Regions from separate parts of the Homo sapiens genome. Here region 1 is linked to region 2. A link means that fine-mapping ties the variant in region 2 to the expression of a gene that starts in the linked region. Tissue or cell type: whole blood. Region 2 holds a variant in brackets; the other region holds the start of a gene. All regions are shown on one strand. Distances are from middle to middle.

Evidence for each region. PIP is the estimated chance that this variant, and not a neighbour inherited with it, causes the effect.
Region 1: CLIP3 starts here. The variant in region 2 is fine-mapped to the expression of CLIP3 in whole blood (INTERVAL, PIP above 0.99).

The regions. Positions count from the first base shown.
Region 1 is chr19:36,030,803-36,037,020 of GRCh38, forward strand. CLIP3 (CAP-Gly domain containing linker protein 3) reads right to left here and starts at 2,071. Exons shown (of 14, transcript NM_015526.3): 1 at 1,922-2,071; 2 at 1,390-1,613. The coding sequence starts at 1,555. It overlaps THAP8 (THAP domain containing 8), which reads right to left. Exons shown (of 4, transcript NM_152658.3): 4 at 4,182-4,790. The coding sequence ends at 4,638. The region is part of intron 3 of LOC101927572 (a long non-coding RNA gene); the gene reads left to right. RefSeq lists a silencer at 4,797-4,970.
Region 2 is chr19:36,104,528-36,111,898 of GRCh38, forward strand. It overlaps WDR62 (WD repeat domain 62), which reads left to right. Exons shown (of 32, transcript NM_001083961.2): 31 at 1-148; 32 at 241-581. The coding sequence ends at 501. OVOL3 (ovo like zinc finger 3) reads left to right here and starts at 6,616. Exons shown (of 4, transcript NM_001302757.2): 1 at 6,616-6,769; 2 at 6,842-6,906. The coding sequence starts at 6,676. RefSeq lists enhancers at 6,215-6,845, 6,846-7,371. The variant T/C (reference allele first, on the strand shown) is at 2,810.

The sequences.
Region 1 (6,218 bases), 74 kb before region 2:
CTCAGGGCCTTTGCACTTGCTGCTGTCTGCCTGGAACACTCTTTTTCCAGCTCTCTTATGGCTGATTCCTCCCCATGCTCTGGGTCCCAAACTAAATGTTACCTACTCAGAAAGAGCAGCCCTGACTACCCCTGCAGGTAGCTGCCCCCTAGTCATTATCGTATCTCCACCTTTAATTTCTTTTTCTTTTTTCTTTTTTTCTTTTCTTTTTTTTTTTTTTCTTTTTTTTTTTTTTTTTTGAGACAGTCTTACTCTGTCACTCAGGCTGGAGTGTAGTGGCTCGATCTTGGGCAACCTCTGCCTCCCAGGTTCAAGCGATTCTACTGCCTCAGCCTCCCGAGTGGCTGGGATTACAGACATATGCCACTATACCCAGCCAATTTTTGTATTTTTAGTAGAGATGGGGTTTCACCATGTTGGCCATGGCTGGTCTCAAACTCCTGACCTCAGGTGATCCGCTGGCCTCAGCCTCCCAAAGTGCTGGGATTACAGGCGTGAGACACCATGCCCAGCCCACCTTTTCTTTCTTTCATAGCACTTGCTCCAATCTGAATTTATCTGATTTCTGATTTATTTATCTGTTCACTTGTTTAGTCTCTCCTTCTCTCCTGCAAGGGAGGATCATGCCTGGATCACTTAGGATTAAATCTCCGGCACCCAGCATAAGGCTTGTCACAGAGTAGCAGCACTCGATAAATATCGCTCGGTCAATGATTAGACACTTTCAGTTTCTCCAAGAGGCCGCCCTCTCAGCTCCATACCCTCCTACCTCAGATCCTTTACCCAGCGGTTACCTCTCCTGGGAGCCCTTTCCCCTGACCCTTCTCTTAGTTAACCCCAACTCACCCTCCAGTCTTCTCAACTGTAACCTCCTCAGGGAAACAATGTCTTAAAAAACTCTTGCAGCAGCTTGTTTATGGTAAATACAATTTTCATAATGTCTTGTAATTACATATTTATATTACATTATATTTTTCTTTCTTGCATATAAACCTAAATGTGAAAAATTACATTATGGTTTAATACCTATTTGTGTGGCTGTTACTGAGGCCTGTGAGTTGTCTCAGGGCAAAGACTGGGTCTCTCTTGCCCCCTGCTGTGGCCCCAGCCCCTAGCATAAAGCCAGGTCCACAGCCGCTTTCAAAAAATGATTGTTGAATGACTAAATGATGGAATGATGTGTCATGAGTCAAAGACTAGGAGTATTACAATTCCATTCTCCAATGGGTGAATGAATGAATTAACGAGGGGTGCTCTGCAGCCAAGATTCCTCTGGACCACCTTCAAATTCCCCAGAATTCTCCCACCATCACCACCAGCAGAGCACAGCCCACCCTCCCCGGCCACCCAACGCTCCAGGCCAGATTCCAGGGTGGGGACAGTGGTTACCGTAGTCCTTAGGGAGGGGGGCAGGTGCCGAGGGGTGCACAACAGGCTTCTGCCGGCGCTCCTGGGTGGGGCTGGGGGCCTCGGGGACGGGTTCATCCTCCTCCTCCTCTTCTTCCTCCTCTCCTCGGGGTGGCGGGGCCATCGGGGCAGGATCTGTCTTAGTCATGGTCCTCGGTGGCCCTCGGGGGGCGGGTGCAGAGTTGGGGGCAGCCTTCAGGCAAATCCTGGAGGCAGAGGTCAGCTGGAGAGGGTGCCCGGCAGGCTCCAGGGTCCAAGCCCCTAGGAGCTTCCAGGGCCCCGGGTGGCCTCCGCGCAACTGGATCTTGGGCAACCATAGGGACCCCCGTTACCCATAGAGGGCCCCGGTGTGTGCGCCCAGCGCCTGCCACCTCCCCCAGGCCCAGCCCCCCATTCTTCTCCTCCCGCGTCAGGCCCCTCAGTCGCGGCTGCCCCCTCCCCGGGTTTGTTTATCTCGGGATTCAGGATGCTTCGCCCCTCCCCTTCTCCGCGGGCCGCCCCCTCCCCATCTTACCTCGGGCAGACAGCGCTGGGGACCAAAGTGGAGACTGGGGAGACTGTGGGAGCAATGGGGTGTCGGTGTCAGGGGACGTGATGGGGGAGGCAAGGGAGACAGAGAGAAGGGGACGAGGCCCAGACGCCGACAGGGGGTGGGGGCGGAGAGGGAGGGGCGCGACTGCGCATGCGCCTGCTGCCCCCCTACCGGCGGCGGGGGAGGAGGGACCAGGAGGAGGGACCGGGAGGCGCTCGCATTGATGGAGGGGCCAGAGGCGGCGACTGAAAGGGGAGAGCCTCCGGGCACTGGGAGAGGAAGAGATGGCTACGGAAAGGAGCGAGATGAGCAGATACAACGGCAAAAGAGAGGGCTGAGAGAGCGGACACAGATCTTCTCCATCCCCTTCCCCCACGCCTGCAAACCAGGCCGGTGAGGGCAGTGGTCTTGGGGCGTGGTGACGATGGGGACCCTCTAGGGGACCCTCTCTCTAGGACCCTAGACCGGACCCCTTCTCCAAGCTCACCATTCATAATGGGTGCCTCAGAGGGGTGATTTCCTAGAGACTCCTATCATGATCATCTCATCCTTACCATCATAATGCGAGGCTCACACACTGGGGCCCAGAGGTTAAGCAGCTTGCCCAAAAGTACATGAGTAGGTGATGGAGCGAACATTTGAAACCAGACAGTCTGTAAAGTCTGATTTTTATTTTTATTATTTCCTAGACAGGGTCTCACTCTGTCACCCAGGCTACTGTGCAGTGTTGTGATCTTGGCTCACTGCAGCGTCAAACTTCTGGGCTCAAGCCATCCTCCCACCTCAACCTCCCGAGTAGCCGAGACCACACGTGCATGCCACCATGTCTGGAGAATTTTTTTTGAGACAGGGTTTTGCCATGTTGCCCAGGCTGGTCTTGAACTCCTGACCTCAAGGGATCCTCCTGCCCCTGCCACCCAAAGCGCTGAGATTACAGGCACGAGTCACCATGCCCAGCTTTGATTCTTAATCACCATGCTACATGCCTGTAGCAGTGTCTGGGAAACAGATCTGCCGATTGACCCCTCCAACTCTCTCAGAACCTGTATCTTCCCCACGGAGGCCTCCTGAAGCCAGCCCAGGGTCCTGGCTCCATTGTCATGGCTTGGCTTCCCACCTGGAGCTGTAGCCTGCTCTGCCTCAAATCATCCCAGCCTGGATGGGGCTGGGTGACAGCCTTGAACACCTCATCCTTCTAATGCACAGGTCCAGTAGCTCCATCTCCAAAAGATTTCCAGGATCTCACTCTCCCCACCGCTACCCTGGGCCCTCATCTTGGTCCATCCTTCTTCTTCTGCCACCAGCACTACGGCAGCAGCCTCTTACCTGCTGTCCCCGTCCTCCTCCAACATGCAGCCACAGGGACCCATGAACACCTGTCACTTTGGAGCCCTCTTTCCCTCAGAGGGGTCTGCCTGCTGCACCTCACTCCAGGTAGAAGCCAAGGCTCTCAGCCATGGCCCACAAGGGCCTATGTGAACCTGCCCCATCATCTCTGCACTCACCTCCTCTCACCCTCTTTTGTTCACTCCACCCCAGCCACACTGGCCTCCTTGCTTCTCCCTACCCCAGGACCTTTGCACTGGCTCTTTTTTTTTTTTTTTTTTGAGATGGCAGTCTCACTGTTCCCCAGGCTGGAGTGGAGTGGCATGATCTCTGCTCACTGCAACCTCTGTCTTCCAGGTTCAAGTGATTCTCCTGCCTCAGCCTCCCGAGTAGCTGGGATTACAGGCCTGTGCCACCACACCCAGCTAATTTTTGTATTTTTAGTAGGGACGGGGTTTCGCCATGTTGGCCAGGCTGGTCTCAAACTCCTGACCTTAGGTTATCTGCCTGCCTCAGCTTCCCAAAGTGCTGGGACGACAGGCGTGAGCCACCGTGCCTGGCCTGCAACGGCTCTTTGTGATGCCCGGAATGCTCTTCCTCCAAATCCCTACGTGGCTCCCTCTCTGCCCTGTTTTAGGATCTTACTTGTTGGTGTCTTTTCACCTTCTCTGCTCTAAAACTGCACCCCTTCCTCCCTTCCCTACTATGGTTTTCTCCATAGCAACACCGCCTCCCAGACCTGACACATCCCAGACAGCAGGCCCTCACTGCAGGGGTTGTTCGTCCTCTGGAACCTGAGCCTGTAGCGCTCCAGGCCAGCCCCTTCTGATCACCCAGGTTTCTGCTAAAACATGGCCTTGGAGGGCCCTCCCCCAGGCCCAAACCAAATTTTTGTTGTCTTTATAGCACTCATCGCTCATGTCTGCAGTGTTCTTGTTTATTTGTTTACTAGTTCATCGTCTACTCAAGTAGAATGAGCACCATGAGGGCAGGGATTTTCTCAGCTGTGTCCACCATGGTATCATGAACTCAGTACCAGGCTTGGCAAAAAGCGTGGGACTCCTTAGAACCAGGTATGATTCTCCCAAACAACCCTTGCTCTGCTCTGAGGCTGTCGTACTGATTTGCAAAGATCTGAGCCGGGGGTGGCAGAAGCCTGGTACCCAGGGGATTGGGGGCTGATGAGAGACTTGGGCCCAGGTCACCCCTAAGGTTCAAGAGATCCCTAGGAGTGGGGTGGTAGAACCCAGGCCCTTGAGGGAGGCACTGCTACTACCCAGGCGTGGGCGGTGGGGCTGGGCCAAGCCCACGTATAATGTCTTTCCTCCTCCATCTTCTATCTTTTGTCCCTCGACATTGTCTGTCTTGATCCTTATGCACTGGGGATCCGAGTGTCCAGGAGCTCCGGCTTGGCATCCACTGTGGCAGGTGCAGGGTCCTGGGCAAGGACCATGGCTATGTCAGGCCCTCCACAGATGATGGTGAAGGTTTGGGATTCCTCAGGTCCAAGGGTCTGGGCTGTTGTCTAAGGCAAAGAAGTGGTAGAGATGGGGAACATTACGAAGCAAGTTGCGGGAGAGACAGACAGATAACGGTGAGGAACAGGGAGGCAAAGGTGGCAGGAGGGCGTGTCAGGAAACAGAGAGAGATGTGGGGAGAGATATGAGGAGACAGGAAAGCAGATGTGAGGGCCAGAGAGACATTCATGGGAAAGGAAAGAAGGGTGGGGAAATGGGAAGAGAAGTGCGGGGGCACAGACGCAGACACGTGGGGGAAAGAGATGTGCAGGCAGACAGACGTACAGACAGGGTCAGAGATATGGGGGAGACAGAAAATATGCAGATAAAGAGAGACACAGGGAGGTGGGGAAACAGGTGGCGGACAGAGATGATGGGCAGAAAGACAATGAATGTTGGGGAGGGAGGAGATTGGGAGGTAGGGATAGATGAGTAGGAGACAGAGATTGAATGACAGGAGGGGAGGCAGAGAGAGGCAGTCAGCTCAGGGGATCTGGCAGGCTCCACAAAGAGCCCCAGGCCCGAGTCTGAGCTCTGTCCCTGCCCCACTGTCCCTCTGTGCCCCAGGCCACAGTCTCAAACTTCAAGGCCCCAGAGGCAGCCACACTGTAGCTCCAGCCAACTGCTATCACCTGAGAATCCAAGCCCAGTGCTGCTAGATATGCAGAGCCTTCAGGAAAGACCAGACTTTTTTTTTTTTTTTTTTTTTGAGACAGAGTCTCACAGTGTCACCCAGGCTGGAGTGCAGTAGCACAATCACAGTTCATTAAAGCCTTGACCTTCTGGACTCAAGCAATACTCCCACTTCAGCCTCTCAAATAGCTAGAACTATAGGTGCAACACTTGGCTAATTTTTTGTGTTTCTTGTAGAGACAGGGTTTCACCATGTTGCCCAGTCTGGTCTCAAACTCCTGGGCTCAAGTCATCTACCTGCTTCAGCCTCCCAAAGTGCTGGGATTACAGGTGTGAGCCACTGCACTCGGCCATTATAAATTATTTTAAAGCACTGCGGAGGCCAAACAAATTGTATCTGTGGGTCATGTCCAAACCACTGACTATCAATCTGAGACTCCTGGCTGGGCATGGTGGCTCATACCTGTAATCCCAGCACTATAGGAGGCCGAGGTGGGCTGATTACCTGAGGTCAGGAGCTCAAGACCAGCCTGGCCAACATGGCAAAACCCCGTCTCTACTACAAACACAAAACTTAGCTGGGCATGGTGGCACGTGCCTGTAATCCCAGCTACTTGGGAGGCTGAGACAGGAGAATCGCTTGAACCAGAGAGGCAGAGGTTGCAGTGAGCTGAGATCGCACCACTCCACTCCAGCCTGGGCAACAGAGCAAGACTCCTTCTCAAAAAAAAAAAAAAAAAAAATCGGATACTCCTTAACTCCAGAGGTACTGTGGGGGCTCCTTCCTGAGCCCCTTCAGTGAG
Region 2 (7,371 bases):
TCTGTTACAGGGCAGCCCTGCCCGCTGGAGTGAGCCCTGGGTGCCGGTTGAAGCCCTGCCCCCATCTCCCCTTGAGCTGAGCAGGGTGGGGAACATCTTGCACAGGCTGCAGACCACCTTCCAAGAAGCCCTCGACCTTTACCGTGTGGTGAGCTAAGCCCCAGAGTTGGGAAAGGGTTGAGGGGTCTCTTGAGACCGCCCGGCCTTGGTGGCCCCTGACAAGGCTGGCATCCCTTGCAGTTGGTCTCCAGTGGCCAGGTGGACACCGGGCAGCAGCAGGCACGGACTGAGCTGGTCTCCACCTTCCTGTGGATCCACAGCCAGCTGGAGGCTGAATGCCTGGTGGGGACTAGTGTGGCCCCAGCCCAGGCTCTGCCCAGCCCAGGACCCCCGTCCCCACCGACGCTGTACCCCCTGGCCAGCCCAGACCTGCAGGCCCTGCTGGAACACTACTCGGAGCTGCTGGTGCAGGCCGTGCGGAGGAAGGCACGGGGGCACTGAGGGCGCAGCCCCTCCACCGCAGCCCTGCTGCTTCTGAGGACTTAGGTATTTTAAGCGAATAAACTGACAGCTTTGAGGAATGGTTCCTGGTGTCTGTTTGGGCCTATCCACAAAGCCCTCTTCAAGTGGAAGTGGGGAGGGAGGGTAGAAGGTGATGCCCAGAGGACTCGTGTCTGTCAGTGGAGAGCATGGGACCAGCGCTCCCAAGAAGTTCAGGAACTGCAGCCATGACCTCAGGGCCAGTCCTCCCACACTGCCCACAGAGCTGCCACAGACCAGTGTGAGGTGCTTACCCAGTGGGGCCCATTTGTGCCCCAGGGAGGAGCCAGACCCTCTTACCTGCCCCCTGCCAGTGCCTGAGAACTCACTGGGGCTGCTGTGATCACCATGTGCCTACCTTGCCCAGCAGTCCACGCTTTGCCATATCATGGCTCAGGGCCTCTGGGCCAAGGCCACACTAGATCCCACAAAGTCCACGGTGGTGGTGTCCCCATCTGCAACAGGGGAAACTGAGGACCCATGAACAGGCTTGCCCAAGCTGGGTATGGTGGCCTGCACCTATAATCCCGGCTACTCAGGAGGCTGAGGTGGGAGGATCGCTTGAGGCCAGGAGTTTGAGACCAGCCTGGGCAACTTGGTGAAACCCCATCTCTTTATTTCATGTATTTATTTATTTATTTTTGTTTTTGAGATGGAATCTTGCTGTGTCATCCAGGCTAGAGTGCAGTGGTGCGATCTTGGCTCACTGCAACCTCCGCCTCCCGGGTTCAAGCGATTCTCCTGCCTCAGCCTCCCGAGTAGCTGGGATTACAGGCACCCACCACCATACTCAGCTGATTTTTGTATTTTTAGTAGAGACGGGGTTTTGCCATGTTGGCCAGGCTGGTCTCAAACTCCTGACCTTGGGAGATCCGCCCACCTCGGCCTCCCAAAGTGCTGGGATTACAGGCATGAGCCACCGCACCTGGCCAAAACCCCGTCTCTTTAAATAAAACAAAATAAAACAAGAAACCCAGGCAGGCTTGCCCACTGTATGATCCTGGCAGCAGGCCCAGGCCACGAGCAGCTGGGACCAATAACTGCTTCCCCTTCAGAAGTTCTACATTCCACGAGCTCCCAGCACTGCTACCAGCTCCCCCAGACAGCAGGCATCTGGCCACATGGGGTGTCTGCTAAAAAAGCCACTCTTGGCTGGGGTGTGGTGGTGCACACCTGTAGTCCCAGCTACTCAGGAGGTTGAGGCAGGAGAATCGCTCAAACCCAGGAGGCAGAGGTTTCAGTGAGCTGAGATCACACCATCATTGTACTTCAGCCTGGGTGACACAGCAAGTCTCAAAAAAAAAAAAAAAAAAAATCCTGCCAGTTCCCACCCAGGTGCCGGGCACTGTAGCAGAAGGAACATCAGGCAACGCACCTGCCCTCATGGCCACTCACCTTCTATACAGTCAAACAGATGCAGGAATTAGAGCTCTGTATAATTCTAGATAGGTTGGGGAGATCCATTGCTGGTGAAGGGTCAGGGAAGGCCTTTCGAGGTGACATTTGGGCTGAAGCTTGATAGAGGACATCTCAGGAACACATCCAGGCCGACAGCACAGCCAGTGCACAGGCCTGGGGCAGCCACACGTGATCTGTGTGGAAGCAAGAGGAGCGAAGCCCGGACGGCTGGAATGGAGTGAGCAAGGGGAGGGCAGGAGCTGAGGTGCAAGGAGGAGCAGGGCCTTGTTGCTTCATAACATTTAAGTCCAAGGAATATCCAGAACAGTTTTTTGTTTTTGGGTTTGTTTCTAAATCTCTGCTCTTAATGTTTGGGGGATATCCAGTGTTGCTTATTTCTCACGACTCTGCCTCAGGGAGTCCAGGTGGTCCAGAACTTGAACCACCTGCCTAGGCCTAGGCCCATCTGCCTAGTTCGGCCACCATTGCCCAAAACCTTGCCCAACATCCCTGGGCAAAGCTTGGTGTTCAGCCCCCCAGGCCTCGGACACCCAGGAGACCACCTTGGGCCTCTGTCATGCATGGAATTACCCTTCCTTCCAACCTGTATCATAGTAAAGTCTTCTGCTCCAAGGAGTAAACACCTGGCTTTCAGGGCCCAAGATGGAGGGACGTTGGTTACCCTTGATGTCATCATGCACCTGGCCTCTTCCTCTCCTGCTCTGTTATCCTCTGTGAGCAAGCTTCAGTCTCCAGCTTATGGCCTCATGGTTGCAACACGGCTGCTGTGGCACCCAGCAGCACACCCTCAGGTGGTGTCTCCATTTTGCAATTGTTGGCTTTCCTGCAGCCCTGACTGAAGTGCCTGGCA[T/C]AAGCCTGGAAGCGCAGGAGCTAGAAGCTGCCCCGATAGTACTGCTATGGGGAGGCTGAGGTTAGATGTGGAGTGCAGGGGGCTCACAGAGGGTGACAGCAGGAGAGGAAGAGGCCAGGTGCACAATGACATGAGGGTCAGAGGCCCAAGTTATTGGTCCCAGCTGCTGGGTGGCCTGGTCCAACCAGGAGCAAAGGCACAGAGCAGGGCACCCTCTAGGGCAGCAGAAAAGATGCAGATCTCTCCCAGGGGTCTCCCTGGGAGACTCATCTGGGGTCAGATGAGTCCCAGGCAACAGGAATGGAGATTGCTTTGATGTGCTTGGACCATCTCTCCTGTCCTGGGCATGTTGCAGCTCAAACAAAGAGGTTCTCTCAATAAGAAAGGCAAGTGGGCTGGTAATCAGAGAGGATCCAGCATGTCTGCCACTTCCCTCTTCCAAATGCCAGGCTCTGTCCTGGAAGGACCATACTTTCTCCATACTTCTTAACCAGGATAAACCACCTGGTTAAGAAGCCACTGCTGGTGGTGCAGCATGTGTGCATGTGGTTTGTGAGCTGACAGGGTCCCAGCAGAAAGATGACAGCATGCTTAGATGGGATATTCCAAAGAGTTTAACCAAGGGATCATTTGCAAAGGAGCAGCAGGGACTGGGAAACCACCGAGGCTGGTGCAGAACCCCAGGACTGGCACCCTGGGAGCTGTTACCACCCCCAGGCCACAAGGCACAAAGAGAAGGAACAAGAACCCAAAAGAGCAAATCCCAGGGAGAGGGTAGTGCTGAGGGAGCTGCAGCCCTGACTCCCACACAGGACGGAGTGAGAATCAACACCCTGACCTTACTCCCCTCCTGCAGGGCACCCCATTGTCCAAATCCTACTGGAAGCCAGAGTGCATAGAAGCCCAGGTGACCCCGCCTCCAGTCAACCTCCTAGGCCATGGAGCAGGGCAGAACAGGACTGAGAGGGTTCCTGGGGAACTGGGTCCCTGGAAGGAAAACAGTTCATCTTTCACTGCAACTCCCCCCCTGCTTCTACCCCCACATCTACCCTTGGCCTCCCCATAGCAGTACCATCAGGACAGCTCCTGGGTCCTGAGCTGCCAGGCCCGTGCCAGGCATCCCAGTCAGGGCTGCAGGAAAGCCAACAATTGCAAAATGGAGACACCACCTGAAACCCCATTTTGCAGATGACCCACCTGAGGCCTGGATGTTTGCCCAGAGGAGGGATTCCTCGGCAGGATGCAGTGGCTCATTCCTGTAATCCCAACACTTTGGGAGGCCAAGGCAGGCAGACGGTTTGAGCTCAGGAGTTCAAAACCAGCCCTAGGCAACATAGCAAGACTCCACCTCTACAAAAAATTTTAAAATTAGCTAGGTGTGGTGGTGCACGCCTGTAGTCCCAGCTACTTGGGAGGTTGATGTGGGAGGATCACTTGAGCCCAGGAGCTTGAGGCTACAGTGAGCTGTGTTCACTCCACTGCACTCCAGCCTAGGTGACAAAGCAAGGCCCTGTCTCAAAAAAAAAAAAAAAAAAAAACCTTCCTAACCAATCCCTGCTTATATGTCTGCCACATGCCAGGCCCCATGCTAAGCATTCTCTCCATGTGAGCTACATGGATCTTCAATACAAACTGGGAAGAGGGAGATTCCTTAGTCTCATTTTCCAGGTGAAGAAACCGAGGCCCAATGAGAAATGACTTGCTCTGGGTCCTGCAGAGAGCAAGCGGAAATGCATGGCCAGCAGACCCTCAGCACTGCCACCCTTGCTTCCCCAAATGAATTGGCACAACTGACTCTCGGGCAATGTAAAGAAATGAAGAAATACTCCTCTCACCAGCAAGCCTTGTACAGATGTCCCCCTCTGACTAGAACACCCTCCCCTTTCATCTGAAACCTTTCAGCGCTTATCCAGGAAGCCATCCCTGTACCCGTAGCCTGGATCAGGAGCCTGTTCGGGTCCCCAGGTACCCCTCTTTTCCCCATCATGGCTGGGTCTCTGCCTCACTTGCCTCTCACTGTCTTGGTCATTCTGGGCTGTCACTGGTGTGCCTCCTTCATGGACTTACGCGATCATTTTCAGTAAGCTAGGTCTGGAGCTTAGAAAATTGTTTAGTTGCCAGGCGCAATGGCTCACGCCTGTAATCCCAGCACTTTGGGAGGTTGAGGCAGGTGGATCACTCGAGGTCAGGAGTTTGAGACCAGCCTGCCCAACATGGTGAAACCCTATCTCTACTAAAAATACAAAAATTAGCCGGGTGTGGTGGTGCGCACCTGTAGTCCCAGCTACTTGGGGGACTGAGGCAGCAGAATCGCTTGAACCCAGGAGACGGAGGCTGCAGTGTGTGGAGATCGTACCACTGCACTCCAGCCTGGGCAACAGAGTGAGAATCTGTCTCAAAAAACAAAACAAAACAAAACAAAAAAAATAAAAACAGGTTGGGCGCGGTGGCTCACGCCTGTAATCCCAGCACTTTGGGAGGCTGAGCCGGGCGGATCACCTGCATTTAGGAGTTTGAGACCAGCCTGGCCAACATGGTGAAACCCCATCTCTACAAAAAACACAAAAAATCAGCTGGGTGCAGTGGTGTGCCCCTGTAATCCCAGCTACTTGGAAGGCTGAGGCAGGAGACTCACTTGAACCCAGGAGGCGGAGGTCATAGAGGAGCCAAGATCACGCCATTGCACTCCAGCCTGGGCAACGAGCAAAACTCCGCCTCAAAAAAAAAAAATTAAAAAACAGAGCTTGGATTGCTTCTTAGTCTTCTGGCTAAGAATCAAGTGTAAAACAGCTTGGCCAGTGTGCCGGGGTAGGGTCCTGGGAGCCCCTGGCTGTGTCAAGAGACCCCCTTTGGGCCAGGTGCGGTGGCTCATGCCTGTAATCCCAGCACTTTGGGAGGCCAAGGCAGGCGGATCACTTGACGTCAGGAGTTCAAGACTAGCCTGGCCAACATGGTGAAACTCTGTCTCTACCAAAAATACAAAAATTAGCCCGGTGTGGTGGTGCATGCCTGTAGTCCCAGCTACTCAGGAGGCTGAGGCAGGAGAATCGTTTGAACCCGGGAGGTGGAGGTTCCAGTGAGCCAAGATGGTGCCACTGCACTCCAGCCTGGGCAACAAGAGTGAAACTCCGTCTCAAAAAAAGAAAAAAAAATAGGAGACCCCCTTTTACTTTCCAGACTGTGGGAGGGAGGAAGAGTGTTGTCCCAGGCAGTAACTAGGGGCTAGATTATTAACAAACTAGTATTTTAGTGCCTGCTACACCTGAACAGTGCTTCTGGCTGAATGTTAGCCCTGGGAATCTGAAGATCAGAGAGGTGGGGCATCCTACCTGAGGATGCACAGCCTGGATCCTCATTTTGCCCTGATTTATCCAGATCTGCTGTCCTCCCTGCACCCTACAGAGCAGGGCAATCACAGCAGGGGGCCCCTTCAGTGTCCTCAGACAGCTGCTGTGATTTGAATAACCAGGCAGGCTGCTGGATGTCCCCTGGTGACTGATTTGCCTGGCAAACAGACCCTCAACCCCTGGGAGACAGTCCCCCTGGGGCCTTGTTTCTTCTTCCTATCCTCAAAAGCTCCCCAGGCCCATCTCCCCTTGCCTGGCTCTGCTTGGTGGTCCTAGTGCTTGTCCACCCCTGGAGGCTGGATGGTTCCCTCCAAAACCTGGGAGAAGATGGGCAGGTCCCCAGGCAGGGGTAACCTGAGCCAGCTTAGTCCACTCCCAGGGCCAGCCAGGAAATTTGCATGAAGAGAATGAGGTTCCTCAGAGGCTTCCCCTCCTTTCCCACCAGGGATAGTCATCCTGGGGCTGAGGTCTGACAGCAGGTGGAAGCAGCCCCTGTGTGTGGAGAGCCTTCCGGAGGGCATGCCCCGCGCCTTCCTGGTCAGGAGTCGGCGTCCACAGCCCCCCAACTGGGGCCATCTGCCTGACCAGCTCCGGGGAGATGCCTATATCCCAGGTGGGCCCCTCACTGTGCCTGGAGGTAAGGGGCAGGAGAGACGCAGTGTCACCATCTGGCTTTTCTCCTCAGACTGCAGCAGCCTGGGGGGGCCACCGGCACAACAGTCGTCCAGTGTCAGGGATCCGTGGACAGCGGTGAGTGTGTAACTGGCTAGCAAAGCCAGCTGTTTCGCTCCTGCCTGCTCTCAGCCTTAATGAAGCTGACAGCCCCTTGCTCCCCCGACCCATCTGCACACGCCCTCCAGCCTCGGGACCTGTCCGCCCCTACTTCTCTGTGTTGGGAATGCCTCTCCTTTCCTAGTAGTGAGCTCTCTACTGTTAGGTCTCACCCCAGGCACCAGGGCCGGCAGCCACAGGGATCTCTTCCAGCGGGGCACAAGATTCATCCCCACATGTGGATGATCCGCTTTATGTCAGAACATGGGACAAGGCAACAGGAGTGCGATGGGAGATAAGGGCTTTTTCAGCTGTGCATGCATTGGAGGAAGGAAAGCGCCAGCCGGAATGTAATATATTCATGAAAGCAAGGCACTGTTCTAGGCATGGGCTGTTATATTCAGCGGGAATAAGACAAAAATCCACAATTTTATGGAGCTTATA